Linked DNA regions of Homo sapiens: region 1 is linked to region 2. A link means that fine-mapping ties the variant in region 2 to the expression of a gene that starts in the linked region. Tissue or cell type: whole blood. Region 2 holds a variant in brackets; the other region holds the start of a gene. All regions are shown on one strand. Distances are from middle to middle.

What was found. PIP is the estimated chance that this variant, and not a neighbour inherited with it, causes the effect.
Region 1: it holds the start of EMD, and the variant in region 2 is fine-mapped to the expression of EMD in whole blood (TOPMed, PIP above 0.99).

Annotation. Positions count from the first base shown.
Region 1 is chrX:154,375,328-154,383,501 of GRCh38, reverse strand. It overlaps EMD (emerin), which reads right to left and starts at 4,207. Exons shown (of 6, transcript NM_000117.3): 1 at 3,936-4,207; 2 at 3,708-3,812; 3 at 3,483-3,560; 4 at 3,135-3,268; 5 at 2,700-2,749; 6 at 1,979-2,620. The coding sequence starts at 4,017. The coding sequence ends at 2,305. RefSeq lists an enhancer at 3,250-3,829 and silencers at 4,237-4,536, 4,547-4,966, 4,987-5,116.
Region 2 is chrX:154,418,438-154,426,586 of GRCh38, reverse strand. TAFAZZIN (tafazzin, phospholipid-lysophospholipid transacylase) reads right to left here. Exons shown (of 11, transcript NM_000116.5): 6 at 6,964-7,044; 7 at 6,841-6,882; 8 at 6,493-6,555; 9 at 6,323-6,375; 10 at 5,852-5,929; 11 at 4,861-5,684. The coding sequence ends at 5,583. ATP6AP1-DT (ATP6AP1 divergent transcript) reads left to right here. Exons shown (of 2, transcript NR_103768.1): 2 at 1,962-2,207. Among named protein-coding and RNA genes, the nearest start is that of ATP6AP1-DT, 6.0 kb to the left of the region's middle. RefSeq lists enhancers at 5,998-6,497, 6,498-6,999. The variant C/G (reference allele first, on the strand shown) is at 4,419.

The sequences.
Region 1 (8,174 bases), 43 kb after region 2:
GGTGAGTTCGGTTCTTCCTGTCAGTGTACTTGGTTTTTATCAGCTGCTGAAACAGGAGGCTCTGTCACTGCGTCCTTCTAGGGTCCTGGCAGTAGCAACCTGTTTGTTCTGCCCCCCATGTACAGGCTCATTAATGGGACCATTGAATCCCTAAGGTGGACCTGTGAGGAGGTGGCATCCCCTGCCCATGCCTACCACCCGCCATGGACCATCCAGGTCTCGCCTGCTGCAGGGCCAGCCATCAGTCTTTGCATTGGGCTTGGGATGGTGAGGGGCAGAGGGCAGGGGCTTGGGGAATCCACACAGCAAGTGGCTGGGCACTGCGGGGTGAGCCAGGTAAGAGGAGCTCATAGCAATGAAACAAGAAAGGCTGAAACTGTGAGTGGTAAGAAAATTAGAAGTGATTCACTCTTTTCTGCATGTTTGCAACACACAAGGACCATGTACTATTTTAGGACCAAAAATATACGTGAGGAGAGACGAGGATGCAGCCAAGATAAATGGTCAGGAGTAGCCAGGGAGGGTCCCAGCCCCAGCCCTGCCTCCACAAATGCATGTGCAGGCACTACATGGGAGCTGTGCCAAGTGTGGGAGGCTGGGCTGTCCCACTACCTGCAGCAAGGAGCCAAAGGCTTGGGTGACTAATGCCAGCACCCCACCCCTTGCTGGGCCTCTGCTTCCCACCTGCCCGTGTGCAGTGGACGGCAGCCCCTCTGTGCTCTCCCGCCCTCTGCCAGCAGCATAGAGCCAGGCATGCACAGCAACACGTGGCATTGTCTTGGGTTTTAGTACCCACTTTCCACTTAAAAACATATATGTAGACTGGGCACGGTGGCTCACACATGTAATCCCAGCACTTTGGGAGGCCAAAGTGGGTGGATCATGAGGTCAGGAGATGGAGACCATCCTGGCCAACATGGTGAAACCCTGTCTCTACTAAAATACAAAGCAATAGCCGTGCACGGTGGTGCACACCTGTAGTCCCAGCTACTCGGGAGGCTGAGGGAGGGGAATCGCTTGGACTCAGGAGGCAGAGGTTGCGATGAGCTGAGATTGCGCCACTGCACTCCAGCCTGGCGACAGTGAGACTGCATCTCAAAAAAATAAATAAATATATAATATATATAGTAAACTTCGGCTGGGCACGGTGGCTCATACTTGTAATCCCAGCACTTTGGGAGGCCAAGATGGGTGGATCACCTGAGGTCAGGAGTTTGAGACCAGCCTGACCAATACGGTGAAACCTCGTCTCTACTAAAAATACAAAAATTAGCCAGGTATGGTGGTGCGCGACTGTAGTCCCAGCTACTAGGGAGGCTGAGACAGAAGAATTGCTTGAACCCGGAGGCAGAGGTTGCAGTGAGCCAAGATTGTGCCATTGCACTCCAGCCTGGGTGACAGAGCATGACTCCGTCTCAAAAAAAAAAATTATATATATATATACTTTGAAGATTATGAAATACATACCCAGGGCAGAAAACCTGGGAGCTAAGTGAGAATATAGGCAGGTGAATTCAATCACCCAGGGATGATGGGGCATTTCAGCCTTTGGAGCTTTTCTCCCATGTTAAACAAGCAGCAGTTCCAGGAGCTGAGAATGATGTGCCAGAGACGCCTCATTTTCTTTCCATCCCCATGCCATTGGACACCGAGGTGGACTTCAGCTTTTTCCAGTTAAAACACCCGCAGACTGCTGGTAGCGTGCATGCAGCTTTGCCTGAATTTCCAAGTGGGTTCTCTGTATATACCTTGTTGTACCACGATTATATGTATAAGCAGTTACACGTGCTTTGGGGAATGAGTTAGGGAATAAAACTCCCAAACAAAACACAAACATCTCTGGGTAACATTTGATTCCTATCCCCAGACTAAAGCAAAAATGCGGACCCAACAAAGCCGGATTGCAATCCTGGAGCCCCAAGACGCAGAGGCCCTTGCCATGGGAGCCCAACCCTCTCCTCCAGGAAGAGCCAACGCATTACAAATAAACGGGGCTTTTATTGTGTGTCCACAAAAACAAAGTCAGGGTGGCCTTTGGTTAATCCCCTCCCCCCAACAAGATGACAAAAGGAGGAATGCATGTCAACAAAATGACAAAGAGGACCATGGAGGGCCTGAGTCTGCTGCCTCCCTGGTGGGACAAGGCAGGGGGAGCAAGCACTACTCTGGGCTAGGCCCAGCGCCCCCCAAGCAAAAACACATAAAGCCCCTGCCCCTGCCCCCACCCCCACCCCCACTGCTAAGGCAGTCAGCCAGGACTTCCCCAAAGACCTAGCTCTGAAGCCCAGACCCTCATGGCTCCCTCTAGAAGGGGTTGCCTTCTTCAGCCTGCATGAAGTGGTAAATGAAGAAGAGGACGATCACAAAGACCAGGAAAAGCAGCAGCTGGCCCCAGAGCGGGACCTGGCGATCCTGGCCCAGCCCAGCCCCAGGAGCACGGTTTTCAGGCCGGATGGCACGGCGGGTGAGCCATGAAGAGGAAGATGATGAGGAGGACATAAAAGAGGTGGAGGAGGAAGTAGGATAATAGGACAGGTCCAGGGAGCTCCTGGAGGCTGAAACAGGGCGGTAGTGCGTGATGCTCTGGTAGGCACTGTCCCGGCCGTACATGGGGCGTTCCCTGAGGCAAAAGAGGGGAGCAAGTGGGCCAGGAGCCTGGACCCAGAACCAGCCCGTCCCTGGGCTCCCCCACTACGCACCTATCCTTGCACTCCTCTTCAGAAGAAGACAAAAGATCGTCATCATGCACCTGCAGAAGAGAGTCAGGGCGAGGGGACTGGCTGGCAGGGCCACCATGGCCCTGTCATGTCCCTCAGTCCAAACTTCCCCAGCCAGTCCCCTCTGACCTTTGGTTAGAGGCCAGGAACCCACACCCTCCTGAATGGCTCTGGGTGTTCAGCCCTTTATCCATGGGGCCTTGCCACTTGTGCTCATGCCCCAGCATCCCCTTTTGCCCCCAGGACTCTCAGGAAGAGTCTGAGCCTAGATCCCAGACCAGGGTGCTCTAGTCACACAGAGTCTCCCCGGAGGCCCAAGAGCCACCATTTGTACCCAGTGCCCCCCTGGATTTATCCAAACACAGCCGCGATCCCCTAGGTTGTACCCAAGTACAGGACGCCTGCCAGCCAGCTCACCTGGTGATGGAAAGCGTCAGCATCTGGGAATGAAGTCACTGACTGGCGGACAGCCCTGGACGGGCCGGCAGACTCGGGCTCCCCATAAGTCCTGGTGGTGAAGTAGCTCTCTTCATAGTAGTCGTCATTGTAGCCTTGGGAAGGGGGGCAGCGGTAGCAGAGGGGGCATCGGTGTGCCCCGCCTGGCCTGATGGCCCTAATCTGAATCCCATTTCGGGACCTGTAACAGTTTCTCCCTCCTAAGGCTGCTGGAGTGGTTGGGACTGAGGTCTCAGGTCCTCCCTGTGAGCGGGGTCCCTGACGAAGTCGGGTGAAGGTGCCAGCGTGCCCACCCAACCCCTGCCTTACCCTTGCTCTGGTAGAGTAAAGCGTCCTCTTTCTTGGGAAGATCATACATATCTGCATCCCCTCTAGTCGAATTCAAGTCTGGATTGAAAGGAGGAGACAGAACTGTTTGCCCCCCCAGACTTCCCTCCCCTTTCTCCAGTGCCGCTCTCGACCGGCCCCCCTGCCACACCCTCGCGACCCCATCCTCCCCGCGTCCCAGGCTGTCCCCACAGGCGAGGCTCTCACCAGAGAAGCTATAAGAGGAGGCGGCGGACGAGCTGGGGGGCGAGAGCCGCCGCCTCTGGGTCTCGTACTCGAAGATCTTCTTCTCGTAAAGCCTACGAGTTGATCCTGGCCGGACACGGGGCGGTCAGGGCCGCGGGCCGGGGAAGGCGCGCGGGGAGGGCAGCGGGGAGGTCGCGAGGCGGAGCACGAGGAGGGGGCCCGGAAGGGGTCCCGCCCGCCGCCGCGTACCTACTACAGGCCCGTGCGGGATGTTGTACCGGCGCAGCAAGGTGGTCAGCTCGGTATCCGAAAGATCTGCGTAGTTGTCCATGGCGGGTGCGGGCTCAGGCGGAGGCCTGGCGGCGGCCCGGGCCTACCAAAACCGGCCGAGCAACGGCTGCCGAGGAGCACGGCGGGGGCGGCACGAGCGCATCGGGAGCGGCCGCGCTCGCGTCACAGCCGAATCGTTGTCGCGTCACAGCCGAATCGTTGTCGCGTCACGGCCGCTGGCTCCGCAGGCTGCGCGCGCTGCGCGGGGCGGGACCTAACCGCGGGAGCAGCCGGCACAGACCGGCCGTGCCCTGAGAGCTGGGAGGCTGGGGCCGCGAGCCCAAACGTCATCAACGCGAGGATTGGCTAGCGGCGGAGAGGGCGGGGCCCGCCCGGGAGTCAGGGCGGTGGGAACCGGTCTCGCGATGGGAGCGGGCGGGGCCGCAAGCCCATATGTCACAAGCACGGGGATTGGCTAGTGATGGAGGGGGCGGGGCCCGCGCGGGCGCGGAGCAAAAGGTCTCGCGGTGGGAGCGAGCGGGGCCGCGAGCCCATACGTCACAAAACGGGGATTGGCTAGCGATGGAGGGGGAGGGGCCCGCGCGGGCGCGGAGCAGAAGGTCTCGCGGTGGGAGCGAGCGGTACTGCGAGCCCGGACGCCACTAATGCATGGATTGGCTAGCGGCGTAGGGGGCGGGGCCCGCGCGGGAGTCAGGGCAATGCAAACCGGTATCGCTGTGGGAGCAGGCGGGGCTGCGGGCCCAAAAGTCACAAACGCACAGATTGGCTAGCGGCAGGGGGCGGGGCCCGCGCGGGAGTCAGGGCGATGCGGCTGGGAGCCCAGACGTCACCCTGTGGCGTGCGGCGGGGTGAGAGGGGCGGGGCCTGCGCGCGAGGGACCCGGGACGTGCGAGCGGGCGAAGTCGGCGCTTGGGGTGGCTCTGGTCCCTAAGTCGCTTGGGCTTCGCCCGATCCCTGCACATCCCTACTCCCCGCCGTCGTCCCCCTTCCCAGGGCCCCAGAGCCTAGGGTTCCCCGGCCGCATCCCGGTCGGCCGCCCCAGCAGCGGCGGGAAGGGCCCGGACCCTAAGAGAGCGCGGGCCCCGGGCCAGGCGCTGCCGAGGGCGCTTTGTGTGCGCATCGCCCGGGAAGCGGCTGCAGGGCAAGGCCCGCGCCTACGCGATCCCCGCAGACCCCCTGCCATGGGCCCGCCTTCCCAGTCTGCGGGGCTCTCGCCCGCGCACATGTGCCTGCTGCTTACCACCGCCTACCCCTCTGCTTCCCTTCCTCCTCCCTCGCTCCACCCGGGAGGAAATGGGGCACTGGGCCAGGAGGCCGCTGGCACTCCAGAAGCAAGCAGTCTTCGAAGGGGCCCGGGCATGCCGACGGGCACGCCAGTGGGCGCGGGCAGAGGGCGCCGTGCGATGCGTGCAGAGACGACGTGTGCCCGCCTAACCCTTCATGCCGTTCATTCACCCGGGGCACTGGGGGGAGCTGAAGTGGGGCGTCCTCTCCTGTCGGAATGGTCCCTGAGCGCAGCGTGGCTAGGCAGGGGGCAGACGTGGGTGGCGAGCTATGGATTCCCATTCCCAGGGCCTTGATCAGATATTGGCTGTCTCATGGAGAAGAGAAAGGAGGTGACATTCATCATTCATATTCTTTTTTTTTTTTTTTTTTTTTTGAGACAGTCTCGCTCTGTCACCCAGGCTGGAGTGCAGTGGTGCAATCTTGGCTCTCTGTAGCCTCCACCTCCCGGGTTCAAGTGATTCTCCTGTCTCAGCCTCCCGAGTAGCTGGGAGTACAGTCACATGCCACCATGCCTGGCTTTGTATTTTTAGTATTTAGTATTTGTATTTTTAGTAGAAACAGGATTTCACCATGTTGGCCAGGCTGGTCTCGAACTCCTGACCTCAAGTGATCAGTCCGGCTCGGCCTCCCAAAGTGCTGGGATTACAGGCATAAGCCACCGCGCCTGGCTGTGACATTCACATTCTAAACAAAGCCAGCTGAGGGTGTATGGAATCAACTAGTGTGCCCCTCACTGGGTAGGCCCCAAACTGGGAGCATGAAGAGGTGACATGCCATCTGTAGTTTCACAGTTGAGGGCTGGTGACAAGGGAAGAAGAGGGGAGGGCTCTGGTCATGTCCAGAATGGCTGGCCTGGCTGGTGAGGGTCACAGACCAGTCATCCATGGAGGTTTGCCCATGGGGTGGGAAGAGGTAGACACCTGGGGGAGTAATGAGGAGATGGGGCCCTGTTTTGACTACACGCAAAGATCCTAACAAAGAGGAATCACTGTTGGCAAGGCCCCACTGTGTCCCCAGCAATATGGAAGGAAGTGTGGGTCCATGAAGACAGTGCCTGGCAGTGTGCAGCAGGAGAGCCTTGGGTAGGGCAGGGGTTTGCACCTCATCTTTCAGAGCTGAGGGGACAGATGGCAGTTTGGACTCTGGGCTGCTCAGAGGCTGCCTTGTGGATTTTTTAGTTTTGACAAAATCAGATTCCCCAGCACCTCTGCAAGCCTTCTGCAATCCTGGCCCCTCTCCCAGAGGCCTCTGTGTACTAAGTGCTGCTCCATCCTCCCCCATGCCACCCCTCCCCATACGGATCCAAGCTGTTTCCTTATGAGGTCAAGGAATTCTAGATTTGCCTTCTCCCTAAGGAGCACCCCCCACCCGTTCTGTACCTGCCTCGACACTCTGCCTTTTATGTCCCACCCCTTTGCCCCACAATCAGGTCCCACCACAGATGGCACCAGGAAGCTGAACTGTGATGGTCCCCCTGCACCCACCCTGTGGGTACCTGGAGCCTAAGTCCAGCCCCATTGCAGTGCAGCTCCACTCCAGACCACTGGAAGCCAGGCAGGCTCCTGAGCAGCAGAGCCTCCATCTTATACAGGGAGAGTCAGGACCCTGCGATCAGGGGAGACTTGTCCAAGAGCCCTGAGTACAGCAATTAATTCATGGAACATTCCCCCACCAGTACCTGGTCCCTGGGGGTGATGACCTGGACAGCCTCAGAGAGTTTCCCGTCAAGGGTAGGGTGGGATTTGCAGTCATCAGAGGGTCTGGGAAGGGCGTGTGCAGGAAAATCTGAGGGCCTCAGGGGGTTCTTCCTGGGAAGTGCAGGCAGAGGAGACATCGGGATGCAACCAATTCTAAGTCAAGAATAAGAAAACTGAGTTGCTCCTTAAGGATGGAATGGCTTGCAAGCAGTATATGCTGTATAACTTACAATCCCAACATGATTGAGTTACGAGGAAAAAATATCAACATGGAAACATTCCTCAGTGTCTATGACAAGTAGATGATTGTTCACTGAGCTGTTAACGTTATTTTTTTATTTGTATTTTTATTTTTATATTTATTATTTTTTTCCAAGACACAGTCTAGCTCTATCACCCAGGCTGGAGTGCAGTGGCGCAATCTCAGCTCACTGCAACCTCCGCCTCCCAGGTTCACGCGATTCTCCTGTCTCAGCCTCCCGAGTAGCTGGGATTACAGGCGCCTGCCACCACGCCCAGCTAATTTTTGTATTTTTAGTAGAGACCGGGTTTCACTGTGTTGACCAGGCTGGTCTCAAACTCCTGACCTCGTGATCCACCTGCCTCAGCCTCCCAAAGTGCTGGGATCCACCACGCCCGGCCTTTTTTTTTTTTTTTTTTTTTTTTTTTGAGACGGAGTCTCTATCACCCAGGTTGGAGTGCAGTGACGTGATCTCGGCTCACTGCAACCTCTGCCGCCCGGGTTCACGCGATTTTCCCGCCTCAGCCTCCCGAGTAGCTGGGATTACAGGCGCCTGCCACTGCGCCCGGCTAGTTTTTATATTTTTAGTAGAGACGGGGTTTCACCATCTTGGCCAGGCTGTTCTTGAACTCCTGACCTCGTGATCCACCCACTTCGGCCTCCCAAAGTGCTGGGATTACAGGCATGAACCACCGCACCTGGCCTTTTTTTTTATGTTTAGTGACAGGGTTTCACTGTGTGACCCAGGCTGGAGTGTAGTGGTGAAATTATAGCTCACTGCAGCCTCAAACTCCCGGGCTTAAACGATCCTCCCATCTGTCTCCTGAGCAGCTGAGACTACCGGTGCACGTCACCACGCCCAGCTAATTTTTATATTTTTGGTAGAGATAGTGTCTTGCTGTGTTGCCCAGGTTGGTCTCAAACTCCCGGGCTCAATTAATCCACCTGCCTCAGCTTCCCACAGTGCTAGGA
Region 2 (8,149 bases):
AAAAAAAGGGCCGGGCACTTTGGCTCATGCCTGTAATCCCAGCACTTTGGGAGGCCGAGGCGGGCGGATCACGAGGTCAGGAGATCAAGACCATCCTGGCTAACACGGTGAAACCCCATCTCTACTAAAAATATGAAAAATTAGCCAGGCGTGGTGGCGGGCGCCTGTAGTCCCAGCTACTCGGGAGGCTGAGGCAGGAGAATGGCGTGAACCCGGGAGATGGGGCTTGCAGTGAGCCGAGATCGTGCCACTGCACTCCAGCCTGGGCGACAGAGCAAGACTCTGTCTCAAAAAAAAAAAAAAAAAGCACTTCTATGGTGAAACGTAACCCAAAAAAGAAAAGAAGTAGGCCAGGCGCATTGGCTCACGCCTGTAATCCCAGCACTTTGGGAGGCCAAGGCGGGCGGATCACCTGAGGGCAGGAGTTCGAGACCAGCCTGGCCAACATGGTGAAACCCCGTCTCTATTAAAAATACAAGATAATTAGCCGGGCATGGTGGCATGCGCCTGTAATCCCAGCTACTCGGGAGGCTGAGGCAGGAGAATCGCTTGAACCCAGGAGGCAGAGGTTGCAGTGACCAGAGATCATGCCATTGTACTCCATCCAGCCTGGGTGACAGAGCGAAACTCTGTCTCAAAAAAAAAAAAAAAAAAAAAAACCCACAAAATAAAGATGTACAGTGTAATGCTTATCAAAGCAGACAGTTCCATGGCATCACCCAGGTCAAGAATTTGAATATCATTGCCCTGAAAGCCCCTCTCATACCCTTACTATCACTTCCCAATGTGACCATGAACTTGATTCTTTTGCTAATCACTTTGGTCTTTATAGTTTGACCAGTTAAGCATGCATTCCTAAAAATGATGGGATGTGTTGTTTTGGCTGTTTTGAGGCTTTAAATAAAGGAAATTATTCAGTATAATATTTTTCCCTCCTCCACTCTTTTTTTTTTTTTTTTTTTTGGAGACAGAGTTTGGCTCTTGTTGCCCAGGCTGGAGTGCAATAGCGCCATCTCGGGTCACTGCAACCTTCGGATTCAAGCAATTCTCCTGCCTCAGCCTCCCGAGTAGCTGGGATTACAGGCATGTGCCACCACGCCCGGCTAATTTTTTGTATTTAGTAGAGACGGGATTTCACCATGTTGGTCAGGCTGGTCTTGAACTCCTAACCTCAGGTGACCCACCCACCTTGGCCTCCCAAAGTGCTGAGATTACAGGTGTGAGTCACCGCACTCAGCCTTCTCCTCCACTCTGAAGGGAAGTATTATTTTGTGTCTAGATTCTTTGCTCAACATTGGCAGATTAATTCAAGTGGCTGCATGTAACAATGTTGCTGCATAGTATTCCCCTGGATGAATACGTCACCATTGATTGTGTCCTTCAACTGTTGACATTTGGTTGGTTTCCCATTTGGGCTGTTATGGCTAATGCTGCTGTGAACAATTATGTATACGTCTTTCTTTTTCTTCTTTTTTTTTTTTTTTTTGAGACGGAGTCTCGCTCTGTCACCTAGGCTGGAGTGCAGTGGCGTGATCTCAGCTCACTGCAAGCTCCGCCTTCCGGGTTCACGCCAGTCTCCTGCCTCAGCCCCCTGAGTAGCTGGGACTACAGGTGCCCACCCCCATGCCCAGCTAATTTTTTGTATTTTTAGTAGAGACGGGGTTTCACTGTGTTAGCCAGGATGGTCTCTATCTCCTGACCTCAAGATCTGCCCGCCTCGGCCTGAGTGCTTGGATTATGGGCGTGAGCCACTGCGCCCAGCCGATGTATGTGTCTTTTGTTAAACATAGATGTTCATTTCAATAGGTATATAACTAGGTGGGGAATTGCTAGGTCATAGAGTATATGCACTGGGTTGAGTAGTGTCCCCATAAAAGTCATTGCAGACAGAATCAAGTTAAGGTGAGGTTATACTGCATAAGGGTGACCCCTAGTTCAATCAATGCATGGTGTTTTTAAAGGAGGAGAAAAAGAGACAGACACAGGGAGGAGAGCACTGCACGCAGCTGAAGGCAGAGATTGGAATGACACCTCTGCAAGCCAAGGAACACGGAGCATTGCTGGGAACCACCGGAAGAAGCCAGAAGACAGGCCTGGAGCTGGCTTTCCCTCACAGCCCCAGAAGGAACCCACCCTGGTGCCACCTTGATTTCGGACTTCTGGCCTTCAGAACTGGGAGAGAATAAATTTCTGTTGCTTTAAACTTCCCAGTCTCTGGCACTTTGTTACTGCAGCCACAGGAAACCCATACCATGCACACTCTGCCTTTTGTGTTTCCTCTTCTGTGAAATGCCTTTTTTTTTTTTTTTTTTGAGACGGAATTTCGCTCTTGTTGTCCAGGCTGGAGTGCAATGGCACAATCTTGGCTCACTGAAGCCTCTGCTTCCCGGGTTTCAGTGATTCTCCCGCCTCAGCCTCCTGAGTAGCTGGGATTACAGGCACCCACCAACATGCCCAGCTAATTTTTTTTTTTTTTTTTGTAGAGATGGGGGTTTCACCATGTTGTCCAGGCTGGTCTCAAACTCCTGGCCTCAGGTGATCCGCTCACCTCGGCCTCCCAAAGTGCTGGGATTACAGGTGTGAGCCACCACGCCCGGCCTTAACCACTTTTAACTGTACAGTTCAGTGGCATTAAGTACGTTCACACTGTTGTACAGTCATCACCACCATCCATCTTCAGAACTCTTTTCATCTTCCCAAACTAAAGCTCTGTCCCCATTATACAATTTCTCATTCCCCCATCCTCCCAGGCCCTGGAAACCAACCTTCTACTTTTTGACTCTGGATCTGAAGCCGGTAAGTACATCATATAAGTGGAATCATATAATATGCAGCCTTTTGTTTCCGGCTTATTGCAGTTAACATAATGTTTCTTGAAAATCCTTTGAGAGTATCCATTTGATAGCATGTATCAAAATATTCCTTTTTCTTTCTTTTATTTTTAATTTTTTTTTTTTTTTGAGACGGAGTCTCGCTCTGTTGCCCAGGCTGGAGTGCAGTGGCACGATCTCGGCTCACTGTAAGCTCCACCTCCTGGGTTTACGCCATTATCCTGCCTCAGCCTCCAGCTGGGACTACAGGCACCTGCCACCACGCCTGGCTAATTTTTTTTTTTTTTTTTTTTGTATTTTTAGTAGAGATGGGGTTTCACCATGTTAGCCAGGATGGTCTCGATCTCCTGACCTTGTGATCTGCCTGCCTCGGCCTCCCAAAGTGCTGGATTACAGGCATGAGCCACTGTGTCTGGTGTGTTTTTTTGTTTGTTTATTTGTTTGTTTGTTTTTTGAGATGAAGTCTCCCTCTATCGCCCAGGCTGGAGTCCAGTGGCACGATCTCAGCTCATTGCAACCTCTGCCTCTTGGGTTCAAGTGATTCTCCTGCCTCAGCCTCCTGAGTAGCTGGGATTACAGGCGTGCGCCATCACGCCAGCTAATTTTTTGGGGGTTTTTTGTTTGTTTTTGAGACGGAGTCTCACTCTGTCGACCAGGCTGGAGTGCAGTGGTGTGATCTTGGCTCACTGCAAGCTCCGCCTCCCGGGTTCACGCCATTCTCCTGCCTCAGCCTCCAGAGTAGCTGGGACTACAGGCACCCGCCACCACGCCTGGCTAATTTTTTTGTATTTTTAGTAGAGACGGGGTTTCACCATGTTAGCCAGGATGGTCTCGATCTCCTGACCTCGTGATCTGCCTGCCTCGGCCTCCCAAAGTGCTTGGATTACAGGTGTGAGCCACCAGGCCCAGCCTTTTTTTTTTCTTTTTTTGAGACGGAGTTTCGCTGCTGTTTCCCAGGCTGGAGTGCAATGGCTCGATCTCGGCTCACCGCAACCTCCGCCTCCCAGGTTCAAGCGATTCTTCTGCCTCAGCCTTCCCAAGTAGCTGGGATTACAGGCATGCGCTACCATGCCCTGCTAATTTTGTATTTTCAGTAGAGACGGGGTTTCTCCATGTTGGTCAGGCTGGTCTCAAACTCCTGACCTCAGGTGATCTGCCTGCCTCGGCCTCCTAAAGTGTTGGGATTACAGGTGTGAGCCACTGCGACTGGCCTAATTTTTGTATTTTAGTAGAGATGGGGTTTCACCATGTTGGCCAGGTTGGTCTCGAACTCCTGACTTCAAATGATCCGCCCACCTTGGCTTCCTAAAGTGTTGGGATTACAGGCGTGAGCCATGGTGCCCAGCTGCTTCTATCTATATTTAATTACAAGTGTTTGTTTTTTCCCAGGTAATTTTTTTCCCTTTTTGGTCATTTTTTTAAAAACCTTTTATTTTGAAATAATTAGGCACCAACACTGCTGAAAGACCTGGTTGTCTGAATCTTCTCTTGTTGCTGGCTCATCTTTGGTGGTTCTATATTTTCTTTCTTTCCACGTTTCTGTTATAGTATTTTTAATACTGTGTCTACGCCACCACCCTGGATTTG[C/G]CTTTGCTCCCACCCAGGACCCCCAGCTCCATCTGGGCAACCCCAATCCTACCTCCTGATCACAGCGTGCACTGCTCATGGCTGGCTACTTGCCGGGCTCTTCAGAGCTCCTCTCCCACCTATGATGCAGCCCAGGTAGGATCCAATTGATTCTCCACACTTGGGTCTCTCTGAAGTGTGGCCCCAATCTACCTGGCTAGCTTTGGGTTTTGAAGCAAGTTCATTAGCCTCACTCCACCTCCTTGGCAAAATGAGATTAATCCCTATTTCTGCAATGTTGTTACAGGGATTACAGACAATAACTGAAGCCTTAAGTGACTGGTGCAGAAGAGGTTGATGCCCATCTGCTCAAGTGTGCTCCATGTCCCCAGGGCACTAAGGGTTCAGCCTTTCTGTCCAGCAGTCACTTCCCATTTTCACCCCTACAGAGAGGCCAGAGACATTTTACAACAAGCCAACACATATGCTTTATGGTTCTGTTTCAAAAACATGAAAACCCAGGCCCTAGGATTCAAGTGATGTTGAGAGGCAGAAAGGATGGAGAAGTTGTTGGCGCCAGCATGGGGGCAAGCAGCCAGACCTCAGGCCCTCACTCTAGGCTCCACGTGGCTGGGCTTGACTTCTGGCCAAGGGCTGCTTTTCCCGCCTGCGGCCCACCTGAGGCCAGACCTTGCCTGAGGAAAGGGCCTGTGGTGGGGGGGAAGCTCAGGCAGAAGGAAGACGTGGCCAACGGCCATCCCTGAGGAGGTAGTGAGCAGCTCCTGGTTCGGCAAGGGCGGTGGGTAGGAGCCAGGCCGAGGAGTCTTAGGGTCCCCTCTCCACAGCTCTGGTGGGCCCCCTGCTCCCCTAGCCAACTGGTTGCTCACCTGCCTTCTATGCTCCCTCCTGAAGCCAGCCCCTGGGAGAGAACATCTGAAGGCAAGAAGGAAAGAGAGCCCTGCCTAAGCTTCTTCCTCCCTGCTTGGCCAAGTGGGAGAAGCAGCTGAGGTCCTTTGTGTAACTGAGGAAGCACGGAGGAGCTGGAATGCCTACCAGCTCGGAGAGGGCACTTGAGAGGGTCTATGAACAAATCTGTCTAAAAGCCACGTTTGAGCTAAAAGCATCAGTCCATCCCTCAGCCCCAGCTCTGTGCGGGCCAAGAATCCAGAAGGCAGCAAGCAAGGCCTATCTCCCAGGCTGGAGGTGGTTGTGGAGCTGCTCTGCCTGAGTCTTCAGATGCTGGAATTCCTCTTGAATGAAGTCCGTCAGGGCTTTCCGCATCTCCACCTGAGGGAAAGGACCAGGGATGGCCTGCACCCCTCGGGAAGCTTGGCCAAGGTGCCCTGGGAGGGTGCCCTGGGAGGGTGACGGGATGGAGAGGGTGGAGGCACCCTGCTGGAAGCCAGCAGCAGGGGGTCCGGGGACAGCTACGGGGGACCCAGGAGGAAACTCACAGCCGACTTGTTCTCCGCCCGGAGCCGCTCGAGTACAGGCAGGGCACTGAAGGGCTTCCCGATCAGCACAGTGATTTTCTGTGGGGTGGCCGCCAAGAGTGATGAGGAGCAGTAGGAGTGCCCACAGCCCCAGCCCAAGCAACCCGGGAGCCAGAAGCTAAGCCCCGGCCCTGCTGTGCCACACACTCCCCAGGGGCCACTCTTCCTCTAAAACAAGGTCCTGGTCCTGGGTCCTGTGCTGTAGATGACCTGTCCTGTCCTGACCCCACAGCCCACCTCTGCCCCAGCCTGACTTCCTCTGCTCTCATTTTAATGTCTCGGTGCCAGGAAGTCCCTGTCTATGTTCCACTCTGTCCCCTGCTGTAGCCTCATGCTCAGCTCCTCCTGCAGCTGGCCTCCATAGTGCTGAGTGGGAGACACGGAGCAGACAGCAGACAGGCAGACAGCCGAAGGTCAGCAGTCCCCACCCACCTGTCCAAAGCGGGGGAAGTAGGGCGGACTGTTAGGAAGGACGTCATTCATTCCTGCAGCACAGTGGACAGAAGGCCAGACGTGGGGTGGAGCAGGGCAGCCTGGGACCAGAGGGAGTCCCAGGCCCCCCACCCCAGATGCCATCTCTCTGTCCCCGTCCCCAGGCTCACCGACATGCCACAGGGGCAGGATGATGGGGTTGAGATGACACTCAGCAATCAGGCGCCCGATTCCTGCCCAGGGGGGAGGTAGAAATGTTAGCATAAGCTGGGCCCTGAGCCAAGCTTCTGTGCCAGCCTCTGGCCACTGCCACCCCCGACATCCTCCAGTTCAATTCAGCTCCCTTGGGCAAGCCCCTGCGAGAGGCAGGCCTAGTCTCAGCACCTGTCCCCTTCCTGGCGCTACAAACACGCCCATCTACCCCCATACAAGCCAGCCCGAGGGGGCGGGAGCCAGGGGCCCACAGGGCCATCTCTGGGCCGGGAGGATGGCTGTGGCCAGAGACCAGCAGCCCTTACCCCACTTGAAACGCAGGAATTCGGAACTCATGTTCACTTTCCCTGGTGAGAGAGCACAGAGGCGAGGCTTGGGAGCCCATCCCGCTCATACTGGGGGGGCTCGACCCAGTCAGCCCTGCTGACCTTCTGGGAAGATATGCACCCAGTCCCCATGGTTGAGCTTCTCCAAAATGAAGTCCATCCCCTTCTGGTAGACGCCATCTCCTGCAAGGAAAAGGCCTCTCCCTATCAGTAACCATTCTCGGGGGCGTGGGGTGACAGGTTAGCTTACCCTCAACACTCTCCAAACCTCAATGAAACAGGCCCTTCTCCCTGGGGCCCATGTGTTGGGGACTATCCCCCTCAGTCCCTGCTTGCTGGGAAAGCCCCAGCAGATTAGGGACTTCCCATCCCCCACTGCGCCATCCACAGACGCCCTCCAATGACCGTCTCCAGGGCCTGCATGGCACTTGGGCACGCTGTGGGGCTTCCTTCCTAATATCTTCTAAACCCCTATGTGCCAGGCAGCATCAGCTCAAGTCATCTCCTACCGAGATTCTGACCTGGCAATTCCTCCATCTACCTATGACCCCCATCTTCAGTGGCTCACCAGCTGGGCCGCTTCAGCCACATACTCCTGCACACTCTCAAAGATCCCCAGGTCAGCGCACCACCTGCCCTCCCTCCCCAGCCAGGCCCTGGCTGCCAGCCGACCGCTCTCGGAGCCTCATGCGTTCCTTTCTCTTTGAAGGTGCCACTCCTGGGCTGATCCTACTATGTGCCAGCTGCTAGAGAAACCAAGTGCATTTGTGATTTCCAACCTCGCTTAGGCCCCAGATTCTGGGCAACAACCCTTTGCTGGGATCTCAGCCGCTTGTCACAGCCACTCCTCACAGGGCACCTGCCTGAGGCCTCAGCCTCCACCATTCCTCCCCCCTGCTGACCCCTTCTTCTCAGGGCACCCCGGGAAACTAGACCCTCCCTTATAGGGAGGTCTCTTGGGAAAGGGAGAACATTCATTTGAACACACATCAAGAGCTTGGGAAAAACTCAAACTTGCTAGACTGAAAAACAGTGGAGTCAAACTGCTCCTGGTCTAGCAACTTTCCACATTGGAGATAACCCTGAGACCATGGCACTGGACCCAAGAGAAGGAAATGCAAACCTCCTTCCTTCTGAAGCCAATGTTGGCTGCTGCGTGCTGGCTGGAAGCCTGGGGATGCTTGGAGACAGTAAGTACACAGTAAGGATCTCATCAACCTTGGTGATGGAAAAGTAATCACATGGCAGACAAAAGAGGAAAGAGGTGGAGAGGTTGAAGGAATGGGGT